6 separate regions of the Homo sapiens genome follow, and regions 2, 3, 4, 5 and 6 are each linked to region 1. Evidence: fine-mapped expression QTL. A gene starts in region 1. Each other region holds a variant in brackets. All regions are shown on one strand. Distances are from middle to middle. Region 1 holds the start of KLHL5 (kelch like family member 5). Region 2 overlaps TMEM156 (transmembrane protein 156). Region 3 overlaps TMEM156 (transmembrane protein 156). Region 4 has its middle 3.1 kb from the start of TMEM156. Region 5 overlaps KLHL5 (kelch like family member 5). Region 6 overlaps RFC1 (replication factor C subunit 1).

Evidence for each region.
Region 2: its variant is fine-mapped to the expression of KLHL5 in whole blood (TOPMed, PIP above 0.99).
Region 3: its variant is fine-mapped to the expression of KLHL5 in whole blood (TOPMed, PIP 0.98).
Region 4: its variant is fine-mapped to the expression of KLHL5 in whole blood (INTERVAL, PIP 0.94).
Region 5: its variant is fine-mapped to the expression of KLHL5 in whole blood (TOPMed, PIP 0.98).
Region 6: its variant is fine-mapped to the expression of KLHL5 in whole blood (INTERVAL, PIP above 0.99).

What each region holds. Positions count from the first base shown.
Region 1 is chr4:39,059,838-39,064,915 of GRCh38, forward strand. KLHL5 (kelch like family member 5) reads left to right here and starts at 2,395. Exons shown (of 11, transcript NM_015990.5): 1 at 2,395-3,198. The coding sequence starts at 2,816.
Region 2 is chr4:39,003,383-39,008,460 of GRCh38, forward strand. The region is part of intron 1 of TMEM156 (transmembrane protein 156); the gene reads right to left. Among named protein-coding and RNA genes, the nearest start is that of TMEM156, 26 kb to the right of the region's middle. The variant C/T (reference allele first, on the strand shown) is at 2,665.
Region 3 is chr4:39,016,527-39,021,604 of GRCh38, forward strand. All of the region lies in intron 1 of TMEM156 (transmembrane protein 156), which reads right to left. Among named protein-coding and RNA genes, the nearest start is that of TMEM156, 13 kb to the right of the region's middle. The variant C/A (reference allele first, on the strand shown) is at 2,183.
Region 4 is chr4:39,032,939-39,038,016 of GRCh38, forward strand. No RefSeq gene overlaps it. Among named protein-coding and RNA genes, the nearest start is that of TMEM156, 3.1 kb to the left of the region's middle. RefSeq lists an enhancer at 3,989-4,518. The variant C/G (reference allele first, on the strand shown) is at 2,468.
Region 5 is chr4:39,115,187-39,120,264 of GRCh38, forward strand. KLHL5 (kelch like family member 5) reads left to right here. Exons shown (of 11, transcript NM_015990.5): 10 at 1-144. Among named protein-coding and RNA genes, the nearest start is that of KLHL5, 55 kb to the left of the region's middle. The variant G/A (reference allele first, on the strand shown) is at 2,493.
Region 6 is chr4:39,315,181-39,320,258 of GRCh38, forward strand. It overlaps RFC1 (replication factor C subunit 1), which reads right to left. Exons shown (of 25, transcript NM_002913.5): 10 at 1,735-1,842. Among named protein-coding and RNA genes, the nearest start is that of RFC1, 49 kb to the right of the region's middle. The variant G/T (reference allele first, on the strand shown) is at 2,510.

The DNA of each region.
Region 1 (5,078 bases):
GTAGTGAGCCAAGATCACACCACTGTACTCTTGCCTGGGTGACAGAGTTAGATTCTGTCTTAAAATAAAACAAAATAAAATGCACATACCTTCAACCCAGCAAGTCCACTCCTGGCAATAAATTCTGTAGATATAAAAGCCTCACAAGGATGTTTCTTTCAACATTATTTTAATGGCAAAAACCCAAAAACCTGAAATCAACCTGAATGCCCATTAGCAGGGAGATAGTTTAATAAATTGGTTTTTTTACAGTAATGAAATATCATGTAACTCTTAAAAAGATTATTAATTTATATTTCCATGTATATATAAAATTAGGTGAGAAGAGCAAAATGCTAAAAGATGAATACAATATGATCTCTTGTATAACAATAGCAAATCTCTTATATATGTGTATATAAGTTTGTCCATGATTTATAAACATGGAGAGAGGTGTGAAAGGCTATATGTACCAAGCTTGGCGTCAGCAATGATTACCATGGGAATGAGTGGAGGAGGATTGGCAAAATAAAGGTATCATTTTTCATTGCCAGATGTTTGCTGTCTCTGGCCCCTGCACACTCAATGCCTATAGCACTCTGGTCATTCCAACAACTAAAAATCTACCACCACCACCACCACCACCACCTATTTTCCAGAAGCCTTTAGGAGCAGGTTGATGCTTCCCTTGTTGAGAACCAGCTACTTAGAGTAACTGAAGTGTTTACAAAGATGATAGTGCCTGAGCTAAATCTTGAAGGATGAAGTGTGTTTTTTAAACCAGAGTTTCTCTGGGAGGCAAACAGTGTTATAAAAGAGGGAACACCATAATGTAGACTGCCTTGACCAATGAAGTGGTGTGTCTATGTTGGAAAATGGTTAGAAATAAAGTTGGATAGCTAGAGTGAAGTTAGAAGGATGTTGATCAGAAGGAGTCTGACAAAGGTGAGAGGAGAGGGGAAAGTGTCATTTCACTCTCTAATGCGTCCTGCACAGTACTGCCAAGTTAATTTCCTAAAACATTGTCCTGTTCAACAGTCCATTCAATAATGTCTTTGCTGCTTGCTCAAGGCATTTTATCTCATCGTATTCATCTAACTTTATCTCTTACTACACCTTAAAATTAATTTGGTATGGCTGGCTGATCAAACTGATTATTTCCCACTTCTTCCTTGTAGATATGCCCACTTCATGCTTTTATTAGAATCTTTTTCTGTAGAAATCTATCATTCTACCTAAACAATGTTTTACTATTCTTAGCAGCCTTCTCCCTAATGAAACTGGCCCATACCACTCCATTGCCATCCTGATATCTCCTTTCTTTCTTACAGTTTGTATGGTTTTTCCCGTATTATTTAGCATGAAATCATACTTGGCTTTTTATGCTTCTCATTCTTGTTTCTCTGAATAATTTGTATTAAGATAGACACCTCACAATATTTTTGTAAGCCTCCAAAGTAGTTTTTGTTTTTGTTTTTTGGTCAGCTTAGATAGGCATTGCCTTTTGTATGGAATTAGTTGATAAAGGAGTAAATACTGAGCACCCTGAAAACTCAAATTCTGCATTGATAGATCACACTTTAATATTGCAGCATTTTAATGTTTCTTATTTTACCTTATCAAATATTTTGTATTTGGTTCAATAGCTAGATTTAATTATTTTGGGGGTTAGGAACCAAGATATATATATCTCTGTGTCCCTGACAATGCCTAGTAGATTGCATTGTTCACAATAACTACTCAGTATTTTTGAGTTTATTTGTATTTGCTTTATCAATTTGCCTTAACTGTAACCATGTTCAAACCATTGTTTGTTTTGCTAACAACAGAGGGCACCATTAGGGCACTTGTACACCCAATAGTCCTATCCCAGTCCCTGGTAGCTTTTTTGAGCCGCACTTTTCCTTTTCCTAAGTAATGTCATAGAAATTTGGATGTTACACTAACTGGCAGTGGCCCATTTCTACTTATAGAGAAATCCTGGCCTCAGTTTATTTGAAAAAGAGTATTTGTTACATTTTGATCCTTTGTAGTTTTCAAACTTTTTATTCTCCTCATTATTCTTTATCCAAGTGAAATCTTACCCAGGATCTTACTGTATTAATTAGATCCATTTGTTTTCTGAAGGGAGAAGATAGAGGTGAAGGCAATAGTCTGGAGCCCCACCTTTGTACTCCGCTTTCCTCCTCATTCCCCATCCAAAGAGCACACCTGGAAAATCACCATAACTCATCTAATTTTACAAATGCTTTTTTAAAAACTTGTTTTGTGGTATTTCACTTAGGGACTTAGTTTAGAAATAGAAACATTTTAGTTTTAAAGTGATTATTTTTAAGTACAAAGGGAAATGCTATAGAATACATTTATTGTTTCAGCAATGAAAGAGTTAATATACTAAGCAGCAGAGACTGAGATACTGCAACGGGGATAGTGTTTTCTGTCTCTGTCATTTGTGGTTTAAGAAAAAGGGGGTGGTGTTCTGCATTTGAAAGGACTTTAATGAATGCTGTCAGTGTTTGTGAGACCTAATGGTCAGTATGGGAAAGGAGAGCCGGGAAAGTGGTCTAGCTGCTTCAGGATAGGTGGATGAGAGTTTGCTCTGATTGAACGGAATGTTCCACCGTGTTTCATCTTTATTCATTATCCTTTGTTCTTTAAAATCTGATATATTGGCATAAAAGTAATTGTAGATATATATATGAATGTGATTTATTTTCCTTTACATATTTTTGTTGTGTACAGCAGGGCATATACTTCTCTTGTCTTGGTTGGATGCACAAATCTGTGTGCAGTGCTTTTTGCCCGTTGCCTAGACGATCACTTGGTTTCTCTGAGGATGTCTGGTTCTCGTAAAGAGTTTGATGTGAAACAGATTTTGAAAATCAGATGGAGGTGGTTTGGTCATCAAGCATCATCTCCTAATTCTACAGTTGACAGCCAGCAGGGAGAATTTTGGAACCGAGGACAGACTGGAGCAAACGGTGGGAGAAAGTTTTTAGATCCATGTAGCCTACAATTGCCTTTGGCTTCAATTGGTTACCGAAGGTCCAGCCAACTGGATTTTCAGAATTCACCTTCTTGGCCAATGGCATCCACCTCTGAAGTCCCTGCATTTGAGTTTACAGCAGAAGATTGTGGCGGTGCACATTGGCTGGATAGACCAGAAGTGGATGATGGCACTAGTGAAGAAGAAAATGAATCTGATTCCAGTTCATGCAGGTTGATTATTTTCTTACTGTTAGAAAAGGGGTGTGGGGGTATGGCTCTATAATGTTTTTAAATAATTTAGTATTTATTATTTAAAATCTGATTATATATGTACATCTGCATACATATATATAATATCTTGGTATGAACATGTGATACTTCTGCTAGGGTTTTTTTAATGTTCTAATAGTCTGTAAAATTACAAAGACAACAAATAGCATTCATTTTGAAATATCTTGTGTTCTATATATAGATCTGGCTCAGCTTTGAAAATAATATATAGTAGCAATTTCATGTATCATTGCCTGTGGTTTGCTTCATTCATTAACCTTCTATATTCATATCAAAACTATAGAAGATATTTCTATAGTATGAAATTTTATGTGACATTTTAGTTTATAACAGATGATAGAGTCATTTTTTAATTTAATGAAAAGGAAAGGTTTTGCAAAGAGATGCACATTATAGTCACCAATTTTTTGACACAATTGTAGTTGTCAATAATATTTTTCTTATGGTTATTTCTCTTTGTCCTGTCTGTGTTACAGCTCTCCAGACTAATATAGAGAATACTAAGTAACATGTCTCTAAGATGACAGCTACTAATTCCTGTTACCTTCACTTTCACTGAAATGTGTGCTATTTAGGGAAATGAAGGACATTCCTCCAGGAGAGTTTAAGGGAATGTAGAGGGGCTAGATGTGATTATCTGGTGAAAAGGGGACAGGAAGAAGGGGAAATCAGTTAGAAGAAAGAAAATAAGGAAAAAAATAGGTAATTTCATAGTGACTTTATCTACCTTTATCTTGGAATCTGCCTTTATCTTTGAAATGGATTTTCTTATTCATCAGTTTAAACTACAATAAGATTATATAACAACTTAGAGCATGAAAGTCATCTTTCTGATTAATCTTCATTCGAAAATATTTCTAAATATTTAAAGGCACAAATAGCTTATCATTTGTCTAATTTGATTATTATATTTTTCTCTTAAAATTTCTGTGCAGCTTTTGATAACACTTGTAATTTGTAAGTTGGTTATTAATGATGTAGGTGTCATATGGATTGAGACAAAATGAATTTATATATTTAAGTGTCTCTTACTTGAGGATATTTACCACCTTTTCCTCTTCTAACCTTAAGAATGTGGACTTGGAAGGATAAAAAATGTTTACTCTAGTCATCTGTCATCTTCTGTGTAATGGAGAGAGGGGAATATCTGTATGTAGGTAAATAGTGTATTTAATTTAAATTTTTTTTAATTAGTTCATGACTTGGCATTATCTTAAGGGAATAGAAGCCACTAATTTAATTTGGAGATCAATTGAGCTAATGTGGTTCATTGTTTGTATTTTCTTTGGAGACTTGTTGCCATAAAGAGAACAATTTATATAGTAAAAGATTCATCATTTTTGTGGAGAACCAAAGAGTAAATGTTTCATTTGAAAATCAATATATCAAGAATATTTTAACAAAATTAGAAAAAATAAAACATTCATTTACCAACATAAGTAAATTCACATATAAAACTCTTAACATGTTATCTACTACTGGAGAAATTATAATGTGAATATAAAATTTTTATACATGTGTAATCTTGGAAAAATTATACACACATTGGTTGCTATAATTCCTTACAACAAAGGTAGTTTGCATGGCTAATGATTACTGAAATAAAATTAAGCTATTCTTTAGTATGCATACAGAAATATCTTGGTGGGCTATTCATTATGAAATAAAAAGATTATCCTTTTTTGACTGAGAGATTGCTATGTGCATTCTTCAAGAATTTTAAATTGACGTTTTTCATTTATAGGAGATATAAAAATAAAATGGCATTTTTAAAAATCTAAAATAAATGAAGTTGTTTAAAAAATGCTACTCAAGAAGAC
Region 2 (5,078 bases), 56 kb before region 1:
GGAGTGCAGTGGCATGATCTCGGCTCACTGCAACCTCTTCCTCCTGGGTTCAAGTGATTTTTCTGCCTCACCCTCCTGAATAGCTAGGATTACAGGCATGCACCACCACGCCCGGCTGATTTTGTATTTTTAGTGGAGACGGGGTTTCTTCATGTTTGTCAGGCTGGTCTTGAACTCCCGACCTCAGGTGATCCGCCCACCTCGGCCTCCCAAAGTGCTGGGATCTTAATATATTTATAATCAAAGTTGTAATCAGATTGTAACTACAATAAAAAAAAATTGCCTTCACTAATAATGCCCCAGGAAGGATATGGAGATGCACCATCTGATGGAACTCCATAATCTGTATCTTTTTTAATATCACTAAAATACATGAAAAACTGATTTCTTGCCATCTTTCCATTTTCCTCACTGGCACTTTTCATTTTATGAAACTTTCAACTTCTTCAATTTATATTGCTATGATATGACCTAAAAGAGAGATAGAGAAATGTTTACTGTCAATAGTGTAGTCTTCTTATTCAATAAGTGACCAACTGAGCTTTCTAGAATTGATGACAGATCCTTTATATTCGGCTATGGGGTAATTTCGTGATGACTTTTAAACCTCAGCTTTAAATAATTGAATTGGAAAAGAAATAAATAGAAGACACATCCTTCCCCAGTATAATTTTAAGAAATAAATAAATTCTACTCAATCATTTTTGCTATCAGGTGGACTATATTCTCATCTCCATAAGCAAGGATTTATGAATTTAACTGCTGCCATTAATACTGCTGAGAGTCAACATCTAAATGTTCACTCTCAGAGATGGAAATGCATTCCAGAATTACTCCAGTACTAAGACTGCAACCTCTCAGAGGAAGTACATAGAATACTGAACAGAATTGGGAAAATACATGGCACTATAGGACAAATGCTCAAGTCAAATATTTTCTCTTTTTAAAGAAAAGCAACAGTAAGATTAAAGAAACATCAACTACCTTTCTTTTTAAACTTTTATTATAAAAATATATTATACACACATATATAAAATGTATTGTGCCAGTTAAATAATAATAACTAAGACCCATGTACCTATCACCCAGATTAAGAAACAGAATATTACCAATGCATTTGAAGCACCCCTATCTCTTCTCACCCCTACACTATAGCATAGTTTAGAAATATATACATATATATGGAATATACCATATGTATTCTGTGATTTGCTTTTACTTTGCTTAACATGTTTTAGTCATGTTGATACATAGAGCTGTAGTTAATTATATATGGTATTTTTATGAATGAATATACTATAATTTATTTATTCATTCTTCTGACAGTGAACATTTGTGTTGTTCCATTTTTTGCTGTTATGAATAATGTTGCTGTGAACTGAAACTCTCATACATTGCTGGTAGGAATGTAAAATAGTATAATCATTCTGGAAAACAGATTTTCTTATGAGTTAAACATATACTTACCATATGACCCAAAAATTCCACTCCTAGAAATTTACACAAGAGAAATAAAAACATATGTCCACATGAAGACCTGTACGTGAATTTTTATAGCAGCTTTCTTACTTATAATAGCCAAGAACTGGAAACAATTCAAATGTCTAAAAACTAGTGAATATATAAACAACTCTTGCTGTATTCATGTAATGGGATACCACTCAGCCACAAAAAGGAACAAACTACAAGCAACAGCGTGGATGAATCTCAAAAGCATTATAAAGAGGACAAAATCAAGTGACTATATATTGTATGATTCCACTCATATGACATTCAAGAAAATGGAAAAGTGCATTGGCAGTAGGAGAAGGGCTCTTCTGTAATGGAGCTTTGTAATGTACGATTCGGCTTTGTGTCCCTACCTAAATCTCATCTTGAATTATAATCCCCAGATGTTGAGGGAGGGACCTGGTGGGAGATGACTGGATCATGGGTTAGTTTCCCCCAGGCTATTCTTGGGATAGTGAGTGAGTTCTCACAAGATCTGATGGTTTTATAAGAGCCTCTTCCCTCTTTGCTCTCCCTTCTGTCTCCTGCTGCCTTGTGAAGAGCTGCCTTCTTCCCCTTCACCTTCCACCATGACTGTAAGTTTCCTGAGGCCTCCCCAGCCATGCAGAACTGGGAGTCAATTAAACTTCTTTCCTTTATAAATTACCCAGTCTCGGATAGTATCTTTATAGCAGTGTGAAAACAGACTAATACAAGCAAGAAGAAACTTTTAGGAGTGATAGAAAGTGTTATATCCTAATTGTGGTGGTAGGTACACTGGTGTGTACATTTGTCAAAACTCATCAAACTATACACTTAAAGTAGGAGCATTTTGCTGTACGTAAATTATATGTCTGTGAAGTTGATGTTAAAATAATGCTACTCTGAAAATTGATGAACATGTCTTTAGTGTACACTAAGGGTTTAATTACTGGGTATTTAGTGTTTCTTCAGTTTTACTAGAAATGCCATATCATTATACAAAAATGGTTTGTATCAATTTATATTCCCACCCGCAGTGTATAAAAATTCTTTTTCTTTTTTGAGTCAGACTCTCACTCTGTTGCCAGGCTGGAGTGCAGTGGTACGATCTCGGCTCACTGCAACCTCTGCCTCCCGGGTTCAAGCGATTCTCCTGCCTCAGCCTCCTGAGTAGCTGGGATTACAGGCATCTGC[C/T]GCCATGCCTGGCTAATTTTTGTATTTTTAATAGAGATGAAGTTTCACAATATTGGCCAGGCTGGTCTCAAACTCCTGACCCCAAGTTATCTGCCCACCTTGACCTCCAAAAGTGCTGGGATTACAGGCATGAACCACTGCCTGGCAGTTCTTTCTTTTTGACACACATTCTGACCAGTGCTTTTCAGATTTTGCCAATTTGGTGAGTGTTAAATAGAATCTCATCATGGTTTTAATGTATATTTTCCTAATTTTCTCGATTTTTTCTAAGTTTTGATTTTTTGTTAGGTTGTCTTTTATTTAATTAATGTTTAGAAGTTATTTACGTTTTCTGCTTAAAATTTCAATGAATTCTCTACATTTTTTATCAGGATATCTTCTCACAGTACCTTATCTATTTATTTTTTTTGATCTTTCAGTTAAAGGGAGCTCTTAATGTAGTGAATTTATCAACCACTTTCTTTCTAATTTGAGCTTTGTGTCTGAAGTCCTTCTTCCTTAAGGTTAAAAAGATCTTTACCTATATTTTCTTCTAAAAGTTGTTTTTAAAGTTTCGCCTTTCACATTTCATTTCTTAATATACGGACTGCCTGGGCACAGTGGCTCATGCCTGTAATCCCAGCCCTTTGGGAGGCCAAGGTGGGTGGGTCACTTGAGTCCAGGAGCTTGAAACCAGCCTGGCCAACGTGGCAAAACCCCATCTCTACAAAAAATACAAAATAATAATAATAATAATGATAATAATAATTAGCCAGGCGTGGTAGTGCGTGTCTGTGGTCCCAGCTACTACAGAGGGTGAAGTAGGAGGGTTGCTTGAGCCCAGGAGGTTGAGGCCGTGGTGAGCCATGATCATACCACTGCAGTCCAGACTGGGTGACAGAGCAAGAACCTGTCTAAAACAAACAAACAAACAAAAAAACAAAAACATGGAATTGTATACAGTACGATGTGTGGAACTAAATTTGTTTTTTCTTTATGTATAACCAATTACACTAGCATTTATTGAGTAGTCTATCTTTCCTTATCTGTAATGACACCTCTGTCATATAAAGTTTCCAGGTACATATAAGCGTGTTTCCGGGTTCTCAATTTTGTTCCTTTAGTCCATTTTTCCATCTTTGCAAAGGTATCATGCTGGCAAACTACTTTTCCTGTATACAAGCTCTTATATCTGAGAGGAAAAAGTCCCGTCGCCTTGTTATTTTTCTTCAGAAGTATCTTAGCAATCCTTCGCTCATTTCAATAAATTTTAAAATCAGCTTGTTAAGTGGTGAAGTACCCGGTGGTACTTTTGACTTGATTCTAGAAATCAGTTGGAGAAGAAAGATATGAAACTGAATCCCTCCTATCATTCATTTCTTCCTTTCTTTTTATTTATTTATGTATTTATTTATCTATTTTTTATTTTTTTATTTTTATGTTTTGAAACAGAGTCTTGCTCTGTCACCAGGCTGGAGTGCAGTGATCTTGGCTAACTGCATAACTGCAACTTCTGCCTCCCGAGTTCAAACGATTCTCCTGCCTCCGCCTCCCAAGTAGCTGGGACTACAGGCACGTGCCACCACACCCAGCTCATTTTTTTGGTATTTTTTGGTAGAGATGGGGTTTCACCATGTTGGCCAGGATGGTCTTAATCTCCTGACCTTGTGATCTGCCTGCCTCGGCCTCCCAAAGTGCTGAGATTACAGGCATGAGCCACTGCACCCAGCCCTTTCTGTCTATTTATGTAGAGTTCTTTGGTTTCTTTGATATCTTTCAATAAGTTTTCTAAATTTTCTCCATTATGATCTTATATATTATTAGATTAATAATTAGTTAGATTTCCTCCTAGGCGCCTTGCTTTTTGTTGCTATTGTCAATAGCATCTTTTAGGAAATATGTTTTCTGTCTGTTGGTAGTATATGGAAATACAATTGACCTTTAAATATCAATCTTATTTTTTGCCACTTTATTAAACTTTTTTATTAACTTTAATTTTTATAGCTTTTGGGCTTTCTATGCAAATATGCATATTGACTGCAAATAATTATAACTTTATTTCTTACTTTCCAATCTTCATACTTTTTATTTCTTATACTTGTCTTACTGCAATGTCAAGGACGTTCAGTACCATGTTGAATAGAAATTATGAGAGTGGGCATTCTTGCTTGCTCCTGATTTTAAGAACACTTACAATGTATCATCATTGATAATATTTCTTATAATTATTTTAGATGCCCTTTAGCAATTTAAGCAAATTCTCTTTTAGTCCTAGTTTGCTGGGAATTTTTAATTATAAGGGCTATTGAATATAATTGAATGCTCTTTCAACAATTATTAAGATGATTATATAGTATTTCTTCTTTGATCTGTTAATGTAGTGAATTACATTATTAGATTTTTCTAATGCTAACTTAATCTTGCACTCCAGTAAT
Region 3 (5,078 bases), 43 kb before region 1:
TTAGGTATAAGCATTTAAAGTTATATGTTTTGGTAATATTGCATAAGTTTAAACAGATAGTATTTTTTAATCATTCAGTTACAGTATTTTCTATTCTCCATTATAGTTTCTTCTCAACTATAGGTTATTTAGAAGTGAATTTTCTAAATTTCCAAATATATTACCTATTTTTAGCTTTCTTTTTGTTACTAGAATCTAATTTAATTTCATTTAGTCAGAGAAGTATATTAAAGATTGTTTGAAATGTATTGAGGCTTGTTTTTATAGTCTGGTATTGTATTAGTCTATTCTCACGCTGCTAATAAAGACATACCCGAGACTGGGTAAATTATAAAGGAAAAAGGTGTAATGGACTTAAGTTCCACATGGCTGGGGAGGCCTCACAATCATGGCAGAAGATGAAGGAAGAGCAAAGAGATGTCTTACATGGTGGCAGGCAAGCGAACTTGTGCAGGGGAACTCCCATTTATAAAACCATCAGATCTCATGATATTTATTCACTATCACAAGACACAGTATGGGGGAAACCACCCTATGATTCAATTACCTCCACCTGGTCCCACCCTTGACAAGTGGGAATTATTACAATTGAAGGTGAGATTTGGGTGGGGACACTGCCAAACCATATCAAGTATGTATTTCTTCTTTTTTTTTTTTTTTTTTTTTGAGACAGAGTCTCGCTCTGTCTCCCAGGCTGGAGTTCAGTGGCACCATATCAGCTCACTTCAAGCTCCGCCTCCCAGGTTCACACCATTCTCCTGCCTCAGCCTCCCGAGTAGCTGGGACTACAGGTGCCCGCCACCACGCCTGGCTAATTTTTTTTGTATTTTTTTTAGTAGAGACGGGGTTTCATCGTGTTGGCCAGGATGGTCTTGATTTCCTGACCCCGTGATCCACCTGTCTCAGCCTCCCAAAGTGCTGGGATTACAGGTGTGAGCCACCGCACCCAGCCCAAGTATGTATTTTTATTCCCTGAAAAGAATATGTGTTCCAGATGTTGAGTTCAATATTCTAAATACATCCATTAGATAAAACTAGCTATTTGAATTGTTTGAATTGTCTATATTCCTATTCTTCACATGGTTGTATTTTATGACTGGGAAGTATGTTTAAAATCTCCCACTAAATAATGGATTTATAATTGTCTTTTTAAAGCTATCTTTGTTGGGGCATATAAATTTAGAATTGATGCATATTCTTGTGAATTGAAACTTCTATCCATATATCCTGACCTTCTTTATTGCTAGTAATGATGTTAATCTTAAAATCTTACATTAATACCATGGCATGTGCTTTCTTCAGTTACTATTTGTTCCGTATATTTTTCTCATCTTTTCACTTTTATCTTAATGCTTTAGATAGGTCTGTTTTAAATGGCATATTTCCGGAAATTGCTTTTTTAATCTAGTCTGATAATTTTTTGTCTTTTTACCTGGATAGATTTGCCCATTTACATTTACTGGGATCATTGGTATATTTAGATTTAATTATATCATATTATTAATGCTTCCTATTTGTACCATGCTTTCTATTGTTTCTTGCCTTTCTGGCTGTTAAATTGATTCAGTGATTTTTTTTTCTCATTCCATTATTTTTCCCTTTAGTTATGTGAGGTTAGATACTATATTTCTATTATTTTAGTAGTTACCATAGTAATTTTTAACATGCATTCTTAAAGCCTAAAGTCAATCAACAGTTAACCTCTCTCAAACAATACAAGGGTCTTAGGATACTTTAACTCGGATCATCTCCTTCCTGACTTAAAGGTTACTTTTATACAGCATTTTGGTTCTATCTTGTTTTTTCACTGACATACAAATTAGTTGAGTTTTTAAATTTTATGCATCTAATATTTTCAGGATTTGTTTAGATTTACTCACATGTTTATAATTGTTGTTGAGGTTTTTTTCCCTGCCATTTCTTCTTGCATCTCTGCCCTTCCTTCTGGGATTACATTCCTTCTCCTAAAGCTAATTATTTAGAAGTTCTTTCACTGAGGGTCTGATGATTGTAAACTCTCTGTGTTGTTTACCTGAAAATATACATCTCACCAATTCTAGGTCAACAAAAATTTTGCCTCAGCACTTTGCAGGCATTTTTCACTGCCTTCTGATTTTCATTGTTGTTTTCAAGAGATGAGCTATCAGACTATTGTTCCTTTAAACTTTTTAAAGACAATCTG[C/A]ATTTATCCCTGGTTATTTAAAGATCTCTTGGCCGGGCACGATGGCTCACACCTGTAATCCCAGCACTTTGGGAGGCCAAGGTGGGCAGATCACCTTAGGTCAAGAGTTCGAGACCAGCCTGGCCAACATGGTGAAACCCCGTCTCTACTAAAAATACAAAAATTAGCTGGGTGTGGTGGTGGGCTCCTATAATCCCAGCTACTCAGGAGGCTGAGGCAGAAGAATCACTTGAATTTGGGAGGCAAATGTTGCAGTGAGCCAAGATCACGCCACTGCACTCCAGCCTGGGCGACAGAGCGAGACTCCATCTTAAAAAAACAAAACAAAAAAAAAAAAAAAACCTCTTCAGTTTTCATGCTCTGCAGAATTTCTCATCACTTATTTTGCTTGGGATTTGTGGGTTTCCTGAATTTGAGGATTTACGTCTTTCAATGATTCTGTAAATTTCTTAGCCATTGTCTCTTCAAATATTGCCTTTACCCTATTCTATTTCTTCTATCCTTTGCAGCTTTGATTAGAAATAGCTCCCTTTGCTTTCCATGTCTCTTAACTTCTGTGCTATGTTCTAGGTAATTTCTTTAGATCTCTATTCCAGTTCACTAATTCATTATTTAGTTGCATCTAATCTGTTCATTTCATTCCTTGCATTTCTAATTTATTATATTTTTCACAATTAGAACTTCCAGTTGGTTCTTTTTCAAATCTGCCTGGTAACTTTTAATAGTCTTTGTTCCTTGCTCATATTGTTTTTTAGAATCACAAAATGTGGCAGAGCATTGGATCTCCCCACATATTTGTTTTATATTATTTTTAGGCTGGGGGAATAAACGACTCTGTTTGTCCTCCCTATTAACTTTGTGTGTACGAATTGTTGCTATTTTTGCTATTTTCCCAATCACAGTACCTTACATTTTGCTTTAAACTTCATATATTTTCAGGTGCCTTTCCCCAAGTTTTATTAAGGTATACTTAACTAACAAAAATTATATATATATTTATGGTATACAATGTGATGTTTTGAGATATATATATTGTTAGGTGATTAAATCAAACCTAATAACATATCCATCACTCACATACCATTTTCGTTTGTGTGTGGCGAGAACATTTACTCTCTTAGCAATTTTCAAGTATATAATCCATTATTATTAGCTATAGTCAATATGCCATACAATAGATCTCCAGAACTTATTCATCTGTCTAAATGAAATTTTGTATCCTTTGACCAACAACTCTCCATTCCCCTCACCCCACCCTGTCGTCCACGGTAAACATCATTCTATTCTATTCTCTGCCACTGTGAGTTCAACTCTTTACGACTCCATATATAGTGAGATCATGTGGCATTTTTCTTTCTGTGCCTGGTTTATTTCACTTAGCATAGTATCCCCCAGATTCATTCATACTGTTGCAAAAGACAGAATTTTCTTCTTTGTTAAGGTGGAATAGTATTATCTTGTGTATATGTACCACGTTTTCTTTATCCATTCATTCACTGATGGACACTTACATTGATTCCATATCTGGACTATTGTGAGTAATGCTGCAATGGATATGGGAGTTCAGAGTGATTCCACATCCGGACTATTGTGAGTAATGCTGCAGTGGATATGGGAGTTCAGAGATCCTTTGACACACTGATTTCCTTTCCTTCAAATATAACCAGGAGTGGGATTGCTGGGCGATATGGTAGTTCTACTTTTTTTTAAAGAGACAGGATCCTACTATGTTGCCCAGGCTGCTCTCAAACTCCTGGCTTCCAGCGATCCTCCCAACTCAGCCTCCCAAGTAACTGGGACTACAGGTGCATGTCATTGTGCCTTATTAGTAGTTCTTATTTTGAATTTTTTTTATTTTTTTTGAGATGGAGTCTCACTCTGTCACCAGGCTGGAGTGAAGTGGCATGATCTCGGCTCACTGCAACCTCCACCTCCCGTTCGAGCAATTCTCCTGCTTCAGCCTCCCGAGTAGCTGTGACAACAGGCACATGCCACCATGTCCAGCTAATTTTTGTATTTTTAGTAGAGATGGGGCTTCACCATGTTGGCCAGGATGGTCTCGATCTCTTGACCTCATGATCTGCCCACCTCAGCCTCCCAAAGTGCTGGGATTTCAGGTGTGAGCCACCGCACCCAGCCTAATTTTGAATTTTTTGAGGAGCCTTTATGCTGTCTGTCATAATGGCTGTACTATTTTACATTCCCACAACAGTATACAAGGGTTCCCTTTTCTCCACATCTTCACCAGCACTTGCTATATTTTGTCTTTTTGATAATAGCCATCTTGGGTGTGAGATAATATTTCACTGTATTTTCATAAAATTTCAATTTGTATTTCCCTGATGATTAGCGATGTTGAGAATTTTTTCATATATGTATTGGCCATTTGTATGTCTTCTTTCAAGAAATGTCAGCCTGATGCAGTGGTTGATGCCAATAATCCTAGCACTTTGGGAAGCCAAGACAGGAGGATCGCTTGAGCCCAGGAGTTTGGGACCAGCCTGGGCAACATAGTGAGACCCCGTCTCTACAAAAAAAATTTAAAAATTAGCCAGTGTGGTGACCCACACTTGCAGTCTTAGCTATTCAGGGGGCTGAGGTGGGTGGACCGCTTGAGCCCTGGAGGTCAAGAATGCAGTGAGCCATACTACATTCCAGCCTGGGCAACATAGTGAGACCTTGTCTCAAAAAAAAATAAATAAATAAAAAGAAAAGAAAAGAAAAAAATGAAAAAAGAAAAAAGTAAAAAAGAAATAACTCTTCACTATCCTTTGCCCATTTTTAAATCAGGTTATTTTCTTGCTGTTGCATTGTCTGAATTCCTTATATATTTTGGATATTAAACCCTTATATATATGGTTTGCAACTATTTTCTCTCATTCCGTAAGTTTCTTTT
Region 4 (5,078 bases), 27 kb before region 1:
AAAGAAATAAAAGGGTGAATGTCAGTCATGTCTAGGTTGCATGCACATGACTCATTCATTTACTTATTAAATGATTGTCGATCCTGTTTGGTGCCAGGTGCTGTGCTGAATTCTGGTGTTCAGAAAATAGTACATCTAGAAGATAGAAACATTTTAACCATTGCCAATTTAAAAGGAAAAAAAAGTATTGTTTAATTTGCATTTGTTTGGTTGACAGTAATTCTAAAGATTTTTAATATTTGCTGGCAATTTGAATTTCTTTTGTTAATTGCATGTTCATGTCTTTTATTGCAGCATTTATATCCTTCCTGTTGATCTATAAGACTTTTTTCTCTATTGGGAATATGAAATCTTTGCATATGTTTTGCAAACATTTTTCCCAGGTTGTCATTTGCCTTTTCATTTTGTATATGGTGGGAGTTTTTCCACCCAACTATTTTGTAACAGAGTATAAAACACGTACCTAAAAGTTTTATGCAGAGAAACACAGTTCTTCATTGTATTTCTAATATTACACGAAATAATGTATAGTTTATCAATTTAATCATTTATTCTTTTGTTTTTGTTTTTTGTTTTTTGAAACGGAGTCTCAATCTGTCTCCAGGCTGGAGTGCAGTGGTGCAATCTTGGCTCACTGCAACCTCTGCCTCCCAGATCCAAGTGATCCTCCTGCCTCAGCCTCCTGAGTAGCTGAGACTACAGGCATGCACCACCACGCCCAGCTAATGTTTTGTATTTTTAGTAGAGACGGGGTTTCACCATGTTAGCCAGGATGGTCTCGATCTATTGACCTCGTGATCTGCCCACCTCAGCCTCCCAAAGTGCTGCAGTTACAGGCGTGAGCCACCAAGCCCGGTCTCATTTATTCTTAAATACAAAGTTTACTTGCAGCCTGATTTTGGCTTCCTGAAATGCACCAAAACTCGGTCATCTCCCTTGAAGTGGCAACATCTGACTCTCTAACATCCTGTTAGGGTTGATGATAATACTAATGGCCCACATCTCCATAGTTTTGTTTTACAATTTCCAAAGCACTTTTACAAATATTAGATTATTTTTTAAAAACACAAATATTAGATTATAAAGGGGATTCTAGGAACTGCTAGAAATGGCTACAAATCTGCAATTACTTACCCACTGCAAGCTTCTCCTTCCTATTTCAATGAAGGAATAAGAGATTAACGAATCTCAAACACAAGAGGTTGTTGCTACTACGCTAGTGTTTAACTTTCCTAAGTCTTATATTTCATATCTGAGATCCAGGTTCTCAAAAATACTTTAATGTGTTTCTATTTCTAATCAAGACCAAACGTCTTAATTAAATAATTATGCATTCTGTGTTAGATACAAATGTTTAAAATTGAGAGGATCTTTTATATCAAGGAGGTGCTCTACCCTAGGAAAGCAAAAGCAATATACTTTTTAGAAAATTATAAATAGCAGCCTTAAAAAGGATAGTTTAAATTTAACTTCTACATATTTATTAATATACGAAATATACGCTTTTATATACTTTATATGAGTAATTTTTTTTCCTAGTTGAAACTGTCCTCTATCCCTTCACTATATTCTGTGGAAAGGTCTTTATTGGATCAACAGCAGCAGCAACAATCGATGGCATTTACTGAACATTTACTATGTGCTACTGCAGTGTTGAATGTTTTGTATGAATTATTTTATCCAATTCCCCAGCAACTCTCTCAGGGAGTTGCTGTTATTCCAATTGGATAGACAAAGAATATGGGGTATAGCGAAGTCAAGTAAGGGCTCAAAAGTCACATAGTTAATAAAGGGTGAAGCTAGGTGTCAAACCTAACTCTCAACCCAACACTCCATTATACCTCCACTGTCAGACTGTGTGGGAACATTTGTCAAGAAGGGCCACTTATAAAATAATAATCATAGCAAACACCAATACAGTTTTTACTATGTGCCTGATGCTGCACTAACCCAGGGTTTCTCACTGGTGGCACTATTGATATTTTGGGACAGGTCATTCTGTGTTGTGCGGGATATCCTGTACATTGTAGGATGTTCAACAGCTGGTTCCAGTAGCAGCCCTCTCCACCCCAGTTTTTATTTTTTTAATTAAAAAAAACAAAATTAAAAGACAGGGTCTCTATCACTTATGCTGGAGTGCACTGGCATGATCACGGCTCACTGTAGCCTCGAACTCCCAGGCCCAAGCAATCCTCCCACCTCAGCCTCCTGAATAGTTGGGACGATAAGCATGTGCCACCGGGCTTGGCTAATTTTAAATTTTTGTAGAGATGGGGCCTCACTATATTACCCAGGCTGGTCTCAAACCCCTGGCCTCAAGCAATCATCCCACCTCAACCTCCCAAAGCGCTGAGATTATAGGCATGAACACCACACCTGGCCTCCCCGCCCCAGTTTTGACAAACAAAAGAAAAAAAATGTTTCCAGATATTGTCAGATGTCCCTGGGGTGACAAAACAGCTCCCAG[C/G]TGAGAACCACTGCATGAAACGCTTCACTTATATTAGATCATTTAAAAAATTTTTTTTTATTTCCATAGATTTTTGGGGAACAGGTTATATGAGTAAGTTCTTTAGTGGTGATTTGTGAAATTTTGGTGCACCCATCATCTGAGCAGTAAACACTGAACCTAATTTGTAACATTTAATTGTTGTAACCACCTTATGAAATAGTTACTATCATTATTTCCATGTTAGTCACTTCAGGCCAGTTCTATTCTAGGTAACCTAATCAGCCAGAAAGTAAACTTAAAAGACAATCCATAACCTGGATCAGCCTAACTACTTATCTTTCTTTTCTTTTTTTTATTTTTGAGACAGGGTCTCGCTCTTTTGCCCAGGCTGGAGTGCAGTGGCACAAGCAAGGCTCACTGCAGCCTCAACCTCCTGGGCTCAAGCAATCCTCCCAACTCGGCTTCCTGAGTAGCTGAGACTACAGGCACACATCACCAGGCCCAGCTAATTTTTGTATTTTTTATTTTGTATTTATTTTGTATTTGTATTTGTATTTTAGAGAAGGGGTTTCGCCATGTTGGCCAGGCTGGTCTCAAGCTCCTAGGCGCAAGTGATCCACTCAGCCTCCCAAAATGCTGGGATTACAGGCGTGAGCCACCGCTCTTGGCCCCTAATTACCCCTAATTGTGTTACTGGCAGATAATCATCTACTTTGGCAACACAGCAATTCTTAGATTAACACATTTTTGTGGGGAAAAATAATCTCTTTTTAACAAGGTCTACCTGAGTATGGAGAGGGTCCCCGGAAATTCCAGTATCCTCATTCATTTTGTGGTCCATTCAAAAAATATTTACCCAACACTAACAAGACACTAGGCAGCGTCCTGAACGCTGGAGATCTAGCAGCAAGCACGCAAGGTTCTCACGCTCACATTCTAGTGAGAGCGTACATTCCAATGAGAGAGAGTAATTAAGTAAATAATAATTTATTTTCAGTTATTGTGGGTGTCCTGAAAAAAAAATCGGGCAAAGTATGAGGGTGAGATGTGCCAGCAGAAAGTTGGGCAGGGCACATGTTGGTTTAAATAAGGATGTTAATGAAGGCCTTGTCATTAATACAACACTTGGGAAAAGGCAAAACCACAGAGACAGAAAATAGATCAGTGGTTGCCAGAGGCTGGAGACAGAGGGAGGGGTTAATGACAAAGGGACATAAGGGAATTTTTAGGGTGATGGAAATGTTCTATATCTTGATTATGGTGGTGATTATACAACTGTGTGTTAGTCAAAATTCTAGACCTGTACCCTGAAAAAGATGTACATCATTTACTGTATATAAATTATAATTTAATAAACATAATTCTGTCTCTCTCCACTCACACAGCCTGTTTGCTATTTTAGAAACAGATAATTAAGAAAGGGGCTGTGGTGTCTCTGAGGCTGGCGGCTCTCCCCTGGGCTGGAGCTTGAACTTAATAGAGCAGAAATCTAGAGAGAACCTCTGAGCAGGCCAACAGGAGACAGCAGTGGTACCTTCAGTGGCTGTGGCAAGGTTGCGGCAAAGAACTCCATGACATGAGTGCACACAGGAGGTCACCCCTTCAACAGCCAGGTTGAGTCAGCCCCTCAGAGAACCGGAAAAGGTGCTCAGCACTGCTCAGACCCCAGGCTGCGGGTCACTGAGCTGCCTTATCTTTGTTCACTCAGTGCATTTCTTTTTTATCATTATTATTTTGTTTTTTTTGAGATGGAGTTTCGCTCTTGTTGCAGTGAGCGTGATCTCAGCTCCCTGCAACCTCCGCCTTCCAGGTTCAGGTGATTCTCCTGCCTCAGCCTCCGGAGTAGCTGGGATTACAGGCGTGCGCCACCACGCCTGGCTAATTTTTGTATTTTTAGTAGAGACGGGGTTTCATCATGTGGGCCAGGCTGGTCTTAAACTCCTGACCTCAGGTGATCCACCTGCCTCGGCCTCCCAAAGTGCTGGGATTACAGGCATGAGCCACTGCGCCTGGCCCACTCAGTGCATTTCTCCTGTAAGTGGGGAAATATGGTTTGACCTGCCACCACCGGGTTTAGAATCCTCAGTGGGCAGAGTTTGCCCCAGGCCCTCACACTCAGGCCTCCTGAGACGTGGCTGGTCTTCTCATGCGCAGCCCACACAGGGCTGCTTGGCCCATTGTGTCCTGACCCCAATCACCTGTGGCTGGAAAGGCAGTTTGTTTTCACTAACAAAACCCCCTGCACTGAGACTGCAGCTTAGACAGGAAAGAACCTGTTGGAGCCTCTTTCCTCAAAAGAACTATGAGTCAGGCTTGTCTGCCCAGCTGTATACTCACAGAGTTGCGGGGACAAGGAGGGAAAACCACCCTGGAATGGATTCTGGAACCACTGTGGTATATTTCAGCCTCTGGAAACAAAGTCTGGCAACCGAACCACAGAATTCATTATATTGTTAATTACATGCATAAACAGGCAGGAAAGCATAACCAAAACATTCTTCATGATGGTAAATATAACAACCATTGAATATGTACGAGATAAAGTAAAATAAATTGCTCAGAGTCTGAAAGTATCAGGCCTAATAGATCCAGTCTCAGATAAAAAGAACTGGCTGCAACAAGAGAGCCC
Region 5 (5,078 bases), 55 kb after region 1:
GCAGTAGCATCCATGAGCATCAGCAGAGATGCAGTGGGGGTCTGTTTACTTGGTGATAAGTTATATGCTGTTGGGGGGTATGATGGACAGGCATACCTTAATACTGTGGAGGCTTATGATCCCCAGACAAATGAGTGGACCCAGGTATGGCATTCATGTTTCATTATTACACTGACTCTCTTTTTATTAAAACAATTCTTATGGTAAAACAGATCCCCTCAATCTTGTCCAATACTGAAATATATGGCATAAATATGACAATCACGTTTTGATTAGCGATGAGAAAAAGAGGCAATGTTTAATTTTATAACATAATTAAAATCCAGAATTACCTTTGAGATGTAAGTTAATACTCAGAGAAATTATTAATTATCTGCTACCACTTGCATGATGAAGTGTTCTAGCCTGATTAAAGCTGATAGGACTACTGGAGGGCTGCAACAATGGGAGGGGAGACTGGAAAATAAAAACAAGGATAGTAGTCAGAAAACTTTGAACAACTTGCCCATGTGTGAGCAGTCGGATTTTTAAATACTCAACCCATTGATATCTGGGAGCAGATTAAAGTCCTGATAACCTAATGAAGATGGCAACCCTAAATTACACTGAGTAAGAAACCTGATCTGGCAGTCTTACTAACAGAAAGAATTTCACCCTTGTGTATTTCTGGGAGGGTCTAGCACTTCTAAAAATGATCTTTTGAGATCTTTGCTTCCATCATCACCAAGAACAGAATCAGGAATTTGTGCTTGTGTCACCCAGTTCAGTACTTGGTACATAAAAGACAATAAATGTTTAACTGAGCCAAGATTTTCTTGTATACAAGGAGCCATGATAAGTATGGTCAAGAAAACAAAGCTTCTAGGCCAGGCATGGTGGCTTATGCCTATAATCCCAGCACTTTGGGAGGCTGAGGCGGGCAGATCACGAGGTCAGGAGTTCAAGACCAGCCTGACCAATATGGTGAGACCCCATCTCTACTAAAAATACAAAAAAATTAGCCGGGCATGGTGGCACGTGCCTGTAATCCCAGCTACTCGGGGGGCTGAGGCAGGAGAATCGCTTGAACCCAGGAGGCAGAGGTTGCAGTGAGCAGAGATCATGCCACTGCACTTCAGCCTGGGTGACAGAGTGAGACTCCATCTTAAAAAAAAGAAAAGAAAAGAAAGCTTCTGAGAAGACCCATGGTCATGTAACCTGAGGTCTTGGGTAGGTAAGATCTACATGTGCAAGAGGAGAATGCACCACACAAGGCAGTGGGTATTTAGTGTCCCATGGTACAGGCGCCAAGTGATACGGGAGATAAGAGAGAAAAAAGAAAGTGGTTATGGGGAAAGCTTTAGTGAGAATGAAGGGGGATTTAAACCAAGCCTTAGTGAATTGATCCAATTCAAAAAGATTGGAAAGAAGAAATTGTGAGAAAATGTGAAAGAAATGTCACCAAAGCAGAATTGTGTAATACGTATTGAAGTATGACTGGTTATAGGATCTGTGCTTGAGAGGAGAAGGAGTGCTTACTGGAGAGGAAGATTGGGGTCAGAATGGAGATCTGTGAGACCAAAGTGGGAGGATCGCTTGAGGCCAGGAATTCCAGACCAGCATGGGTGACAAAGTGAGGCGCCATCTCTGCAAAAATTTGTGGGTTTTTTTGTTTTGGTTTTGTTTTTCAGACAGAGTCTTGCTCTCGTCACCTAGGCTGGAGTGCAATGGCACGATCTCAGCTCACTGCAACCTTCACCTCCCGCATTCAAGAGATTCCCCTGCCTCAGCCTCCCCAGTAGCTGGGATTACAGGTGCCCGCCACCACACCCAGCTAATTTTTCTATTTTTAGTAGAGACGGGGTTTTGTCATGTTGGCCAGGCTGGTCTCAAACTCCTGACCTCGTGATCCACCCACCTTGGCCTCTCAAAGTGCTGGGATTACAGGCATGAGCCACCATGCCCAGCCCCCAAAATTTTGAAAAATTAGCAAGGTGTGGTGGCACGCACCTGTAGTCCTATCTACTTGGGAGGCTGAGGCGGAAGATCGCTTGAGCCCAGGAGTTGAGGCTGAAGTGAACCATGATCATGACACTGCACTCCAGCCTGGACAACAGAGCAAGACTCTGTCTCTTAAAAATAATCATATAATAATGATTTTTTAAAAGAATGGGGATGTGTGAAGGCCAAGCTAAAGAGTTTGGTAACAAGAAGCCAGCAGAAACTTTCAACCAAGAGAATGATGCAGTTGGGGTCGCATAGGTTGGGTTAGGGGCAGGGGAAGTGAGGGCTGGATAAAAGGAAAAGTATTTAGAGGATTGCTTCAGTTGCAAGGCTTGAAGCATTCAATGTAGATGGATTCAAGAGATATTGCCAGGTCTTGTTGATCTTTCTTTATATACACACACTTACTGGGTTGAATTGGGAGGTGTGGTCTCTGAAGAAAACAGGAAAGGAATGATGAGAGAAGTTCTCAGAAGACAATGGAATAGAGCATCTAAAGGGAGGAGTAA[G/A]GAGTTTCAACAGTGTAAGAAAGAATGAAGATTTGTCATTTTTAAAGTTGTGGGACCCTCTGAAAATCTGATAGAAGCAGAAGCCAGCACACAGTTTCAAAAGTAAACAGAAGAGGCCAGGTACGGTGGCTCACACCTGTAATCCCAACACTTTGGGAGGCCAAGGTCGGCGGATCTTTTGGGGCCAGGAGTTCGAGACCAGCATGGCCGACATGGTGAAACCCTGTCTCTACTAAAAATACAAAAATTAATGCTCCTGTAGTCCCAGCTGAGGCACAAGGCTGAGGCAAAAGAATCGCTTGAACTCAGGAGGTGGAGATTGCAGTGAGCCAAGATCGTGCCACTGCACTCTAGCCTGGGTGACAGAGCGAGACTCCATCTAAAAAAAAAAAAAAAAAGTAAACAGAAGAATAGAGTGTAGGAGCTAGAGAGGCATGCAGTTTTTAAATGATGATGATAGAAAGTTAGTATTTATTGAGCATATCTTACAGGCCAGGCTCTGTTCTAAGCACTGTAAAGAATTTAATCTTCAACAACCCTATAAGGTTGAGTTCTGGTATTTTCGCACTGTACAGGATGAGGAATCTGACACAGAAGTTAAACAGCTAACCCAAGGCCACATAGCAAATAAATGGTGGAGTTAGAATTAGAGCCAAGGATTTTTTTTTTTTGCTCCACAATAGAGATGACAAGAAGAGGGTAGAGAGAGATTCCAGATACTAGAAAGAAAAAGTGAAACTGAAGGGCACCTTTCTGAGAAAAGGGCAGGAAACAGAATTAAGAGCAAAGACTGGGGGCAGGGCGCAGTGGCTTATGCCTGTAATCCCAGGACTTTGGGAGGCCAAGGCGGGTGGGTCACCTGAGGTCAGGAGTTCATGGCCAGCTTGGCCAACATGGTGAAACCCCATCTCTACTAAAAATACAAAAGTTAGCTGGGCGTGGTGGCGTGCACCTATAATCCCAGCTACTTGGGAGGCTGAGGCAGGAGAATCGCTTGAACCTGGGAGGCAGAGGTTGCAGTAAGCCAAGATCACGCCATTGCACTCCAACCTGGGTGACAAGAGCAAAACTCCCTCTCAAAAAAAAAAAGCAGACTGGTCACCCTCAGACTAGAAGAAAGATCTTACCCTCCAAGGCTTGGGAAAAGATGAGAATTTGAGTGTAGAAAGGTACAGGGAGTTTTTAAGTGAAGAGAAAGAGAAGAAAAGGACTTAGATTGTGTGGGCTTTATCCTGTTTCTTAAGTGAGATCACTTGATGGAGGGAGGAAGGGATAAGATTGAGAGCTACAAGATTTCATTGGAAATTAGATGATTACCTAATATCAGCTTCCCACTATGGCAAAAATAGTTGTGAATGACACCCAAGGAGCTCAGAAAGATAAGAATCTCTTTTTCTGACATGTATTTAAGCCCTAAGTCCAGTTATATATATGATTTAAGACCTATCAGCCAGTTATTTGAGACTTGTTATTATTTATAATTAATGCTTTATGCTAAATCACCCCATATCAAAATTGATCATCAGTGTCCACATAGCTATTTTGCTTGCAAGCCACCTCTCTATGTTAAAGCACCTAAAAATGTGAACTCGTTATCATAGTGTCTGAAAAATAAAAGTTTTCCTGGGCCAGGCATGGTGGCTCACCCCTGTAATCCCGGCACTTTGGGAGGCCGAAGCAGGTGGTTTGCCTGAGCTCAGGAGTTCGAGACAGCCTGGGCAACATGGTAAAGCCCTGTCTCTACTAAAATACAAAAAATTAGCCAGGTATGGTGGTGTGTGCCAGTAGTCCCAGCTACTCAGGAGGCTGCGGCATGAGAATTGCTTGAACCCAGGAGGTGGAGGTTGCAGTGAGCCGAGATGTGCCATTGCACTCCAGCCTGGGTGACAGTGCAAGACTCCATCTCAAAAACAAGCCAAACAAACAAAAAAATTTTGAAGTTTTCCTTTCAGTGTTCTGACAGATGGACATTTGTATAGGCACTAAAATGAGATGACAAAGTCCTAAGCCACTACCCACCTCACTACCAGCCTTACCTCAAAGCAAGAGGTGATTGCATTGTATTTAACAAATTCTCTAAGCTACACTTTCTAGCTAGTTGTCATGACAGTGTCAGCTATTCACAATGTAGAGACTAAGTGTCTTGGATGATTTGAGAAGAGCTACTAATTATAAACTGACATTTTGATATAAATGATTTTTGAGGTCAGTTCGATAATGCTATCAATAAGTATGGTTTTAAAATAGGTTGATTGTTCCAAGAGACTTACAGTGATCAAAACAACTGATTCAGATGGAGAACTACTGAGAATTCTCTTATAACTGAAGTCTGACCTGTTCTTAAAATCTACTCATTGGTCTAGGGGGTCGAACTGATTAGGAAGTCATTTTGGCATTTGACAAAAATACTTTAGTACATACCCTAACATATATAAGTACAAAGCAAACTTTCTTAGTACTTTGCATTACTCACCCGCTGAATCCATGTTAACATTTTAACTCTCCTGGGTCAAATGCATAGATTCTTACTGTGTTCAGAGTAATTCTTCAGAACTATTTTTGTCCACACTTTTATTTCCACTATGA
Region 6 (5,078 bases), 260 kb after region 1:
TAAGGCCACTAAGGATCATTAATTCATGTTACTAAATGGAACAATTTCCGGTCTTCCCTTACCTGGAATCTTAACAGCATGACAGACTTAACTACTCAATCATTTTTGAAATACTCTCTCTTCCCTTTGCTTCTGTGATCCCACGCTTATCAAACTTCTCTCCCATATTTGTAGCTGCTACTTCTCAGTTTCCTTTTGGTTTCCACCCTCTTCTACTTCACAAAGAAGCAGGGGCCAAGGCCCTCTTCTCTTCTTGTTCTGTACTAGTTTACCAGATGCTATTAATCCCTTCATGCCAAGAATGCCCAAGTTTGTCCATCTAGTTCTGACTTCTGTTCTAAGCTCCAGTCCCACATATCTGCTTGTCTACTCAGCATCTCCATGTGGACATCTCACATAACCCTAAAGCACAGTGTGGCCAACAACGAACTCATTATCATCTCCCCAAACTAGCCCTGCCACCAATCGCATGATCCACCAAGCTGCTCATGCCAATAACAAGATCATCCCCAATACTCTTTCTTCTCACTTTCCACTTCAATTATCACCAAGTCCCATAGATTTTGCCTCTTCTAGTGAAACCTCTCCACTTTTCGACATTTTCACTGCTCCCCCAGACCAGTCCCTATCACTTCTCACCATCTCTCCTGATGATCTCTGTGTAGCTATTTCTGCCCCATCCACAGCACTTGGTACATCAGCAGCCAGAGCGATCTTTCAGAAATTCAAATCTGGTCATGTTATCCCTCCACTTTAAAATTCCTTCTCGGCCGGGCCCAGTGGCTCACGCCTGTAATCCCAGCACTTTGGAAGGCCAAGGCAGGCAGATCACCTGAGGTCGAGAGTTCGAGGCCAGCCTGACCAACATGGAGAAACCCCATCTCTACTAAAAATACAAAATTAGCCAGGCATGGTGGCGCACGCCTGTAATCCCAGCAACTCCAGAGGCTGAGGCAGGAGAATCGCTTGAACCCAAGAGGTGGAGGTTGCCGTGAGCTGAGATTGCGCCACTGCACTCCAGCCTGGGCAACAGGAGCGAAAACTCCATTTCAAAAACACAAAATAAAAATTCCTTCTCTTAGACAAAAGTCTTAAACATTAGGCCCTGCAAGATGTGATCCTATTAACCTCTTTGGCCATTCTCATCCCTTGGTCACTATGCTCCAACCATAATTTTTCTTTCAGTTCCTCAAACATACCATGCAAGAACCTTCCCCCTGCAGGAACATCATACATTCTGGCCCCTCTGCCCAGACCACCACGCCATCACAACCCCTTCACACCTGTTGAATCCCTTTCATTCTTCAAGTCTCCATTTAAATGTCACATTCTACATGCCCCACCAAGGACCAGGTTCCTCTGTTATACTACCTAAGGGCATCTTAGATTTTTCCCTCATAGCACATATCCCAATTATAATTAAATTATTTATTTAATGTCTCTTTCTTTAGGCTATAAGTGCCATGCAAGCAAAAACATTAGTTTTGTCACTGGTATAGTCTCAAAGCTCAGCCTTTCTAGGGCTACTTGTTATTTAAAGGGAAATTTTTCTAAGTATCAAGCAGTGATTCATAACATGAATAAACATCCCTAATTCTTGAAGACAGTAACTGAAGCTTTTCTGTTGCTCATTTTTAATTATTAATCCTCTGCTGCTATAATCATCGTGAATACATACATGGACCCATACGGCAGAGGCCCTCACAGAATGGCATGCCCTCTCAGTACTCTTACCTTTGGTATTTCTTTGGAGCCCAGAGCCTTGGGACCTTCTCGATTTAAGTAGCTTCGATAAGCTTGATAATTAGTGCGTTTCTTTTCAGAATCTTCAGGACTTACAGACTTTGGGAACAGGGAAAGGAAAATGAACAAAGTCATACAGAATTCATGCAAAATTTAAAATACATATCTAGAAATAAACATTATTTTTATTGTGTCACTTCTGTGTCTGGCTGTGAAATTAACAGTTTTAGCTACACAAGTACTTCCTAACTTACAGACAACTGACTTACGAACATCCCTGCATCAGCGCTTCTCAAAACTTTCCACTCTCTAAAGCCACACACCTCAGGGCAGATTATGGGAATAAGCCAAGTTGCCAGCTCCAAGCAAAGAAATGCAAAAAGTGTTTTACTTTAGGAATTCACCTGAATTTTAAATTATATTTCATGATATATCCATATATCCATGTTTAACGGGAAAATACATTTTTTCCCCAAGTAAACCTGATCGCCCGAGAAGATATTCTGTGTTAATCCTATGACCTTCCATGCCCCTAAAGCACCAGCCTGCATCCCTAAGGACATAAGCATTCCAGTAGGAGAATCTAAACAGTCAGCTCAAAGAAGGTACAAGCTTTACTCCAAAGAGAAGACACGTTCTCTATGCTATTTCATCTCCTCCCATTCTACTTCTCTCGGGGAATTTACCATAGGTATATCTCAGAAAATCCTGGGGAAACTTTTCAAACTATGCATCCCTAGATCCACCTCCAAGTTTCTCTTTCGGA[G/T]ATATGGGGTATGGCTAGAATGTGTTTATGTGGGGGAAAAATATCTTAGATAGCTCTCATTTAAGAACCACTATCAGGTGTTTGTTATTTTTCCACTTCCTATTTTAACATTATTTTTAACTTGTAAGCAATCCCAAATCCTTTTGAGAGTAGACAAAATAGTAACTTCTATACAAAGAAATGGCGGCCGGCTGCAGTAGCTCACGCCTGTGGTCCCAGCACTTTGGGAGGCCGAGGTGGGTGGATCACGAGGTCAGGAGATCGAGACCATCCTGGCTAACACAGTGAAACGCCGTCTCTACTAAAAAAATACAAAAACTAGCCAGGCTTGGTGGCGGGCGCCTGCAGTCCCAGCTGCTCGGGAGGCTGAGGCAGGAGAATGGCGTGAACCCAGGAGGCGGAGCTTGCAGTGAGCTGAGATCGCGCCACTGCACTCCAGCCTGGGTGACAGAGCGAGACTCCGTCTCAAAAAAAAAAAAGGAATGGCTTAACCAATAAAATAGTTCAGCTGGTTTGGCTAAGAGGTCGATAAGCCATTAACAGGCTGGTCCTAGAATCTAACCCTACTTTCTAACAATGGTTCTCAAATGTTGGTGTGTGTTCATATCATATGAGGAGCTTATTAAAATACAGCTGCCCACACCACATTCCCTGGGAAACTCCATTTTTTTAACAAGTTTCACAAGAGAGTCCAGTGCATACCAACATGGAAAAACGATTAATTTACGACACTCATTCTATGAAAAGAATTCTGAATGGTAAACAGCGTATACAATAACTTTGAAGGACACCCACTTTATGAAGTCAGAATTATTTGACCAAGACCAACTAAATGTATTAAATAGACTTTATTTGACGTTTCCAACCAAAACTGCTTAAGTAAAAGTTTTGAGTTATTTCTATTCTAACTTTAAAAAGTACAGTGAAGAGTATCATTTAAAGATTTCCTCTTTCTTCATAAAAACAGACTGCCTCTGTAAATGGAACATGTTTTAGTGTGCCTGAAGAAAACCATTCATTTACCAGATAAGCATTTAGTGCAGAAAAAATCTGAGATCAAAAAGTTAATTGCTCCTTTAAGCGTATTTATAAGCATTGTCCACAAACAAAAGCATTCTGAAATCATCACCATTTCACTGTTCTGCACTAAAATATAATGGTGATGACCAGTTAAAATAGGTGATATTCTGCTTTTAATCCTAAGTGCCTAAGAGGCATGAATGAATAGTGGTTTCTCATTATGAATCTAAAGTAGTTCCAAATTGGAGATTCAGAGACCGTTCGCTTCTCAAATATATTTCCTAGCAAAATTTTTCAAAGATATTCATTATCTCATCATTTTTTCCTTTAAAAATAATTTCAGTATCGCAACACTGTTGTACAAGAATAAAAAAGAGTAAATTTAGGACTAAGCCAAATAACAATCATTTTAATAATAATAGTTAAGATGGCACTTATTAGGTCCCAGGCACTGCTCTAAGTGCTTTTACATATGAAGTCATTAGGTACTATTATTATTATTCCTATTTTACAAACAGCACCAAAGCACAGACAGGGGAAGTGACCAAACCTGCTCAGAGTCCCAGAGCCTGAAACTGGCTCCAGAGCCTGTGTGTGGAGCCACTATGTTATACTGCTTCAGAGGACCTGAGTTCAAGGCTGGCCCTGCCACTTACCAGGTGGATGATCTTAGAATAGTTAAACTCTTTCAGCCTGTTTCCTCGTCTTTAAAAGTTGAATAATAAAAATAAATATCTCACAGGGTTGTTGTGAAAATTATATGAGCTACCACATGTAAAGTATTCGCACAGTATCTGACACACAATAACAATAAATATGGGCTTACTTAGCTATATTAATACTCCATATCCTACAACAGCTTCTAAATAAGATATCTTAAAAATATTATAATGACTTATGATCGTTAGAAATAAAACTTGAAAACAAACCCAGACTAACACATAGCACCAAAATATATACAGCAGTCCCCCTTTATCCGAGGAGGGTATGTTCCAAGACCACCCCAGTAGGTGCCTGAAACCACAGACAGTACCAAACTATATATATACTTACATGTACTGTTTTTTCTATCTAATAACCAAGCCGGCTACCAAGTGACTAACGGGTGGGTAGTGTATCCAGCATGGTTATGCTGGACAAAGAGATGATTCACATCCTGGGTGAGATAAAGCAGGTTGGCCAGAGAGATTTCATCATGTTACTCAGAAGAGTACCCAATTTAAACCTTATTAATTGTTCATTCCTGGAATTTTCCATTTAATACTTTCAGAACATGATTAACCACAAGTAACTGAAACTTCAGAAGGCAAAACCATGGATAAGGGGGAATACTGTACTCCCTAGAAAGTTCCTACCAAGGCCGGGCGCGGTGGCTCACACCTGTAATCCCAGCACTTTGGGAGGCCAAGGTGGGCAGATCACCTGAGGTCGGGAGTTCAAGACCAGCCTGACCAACATGGAGAAACCCCGTCTCTACTAAAAATACAAAATTAGCCAGGCATGGTGGCACATGCCTGTAATCCCAGCTACTTGGGAGGCTGAGGCAGGT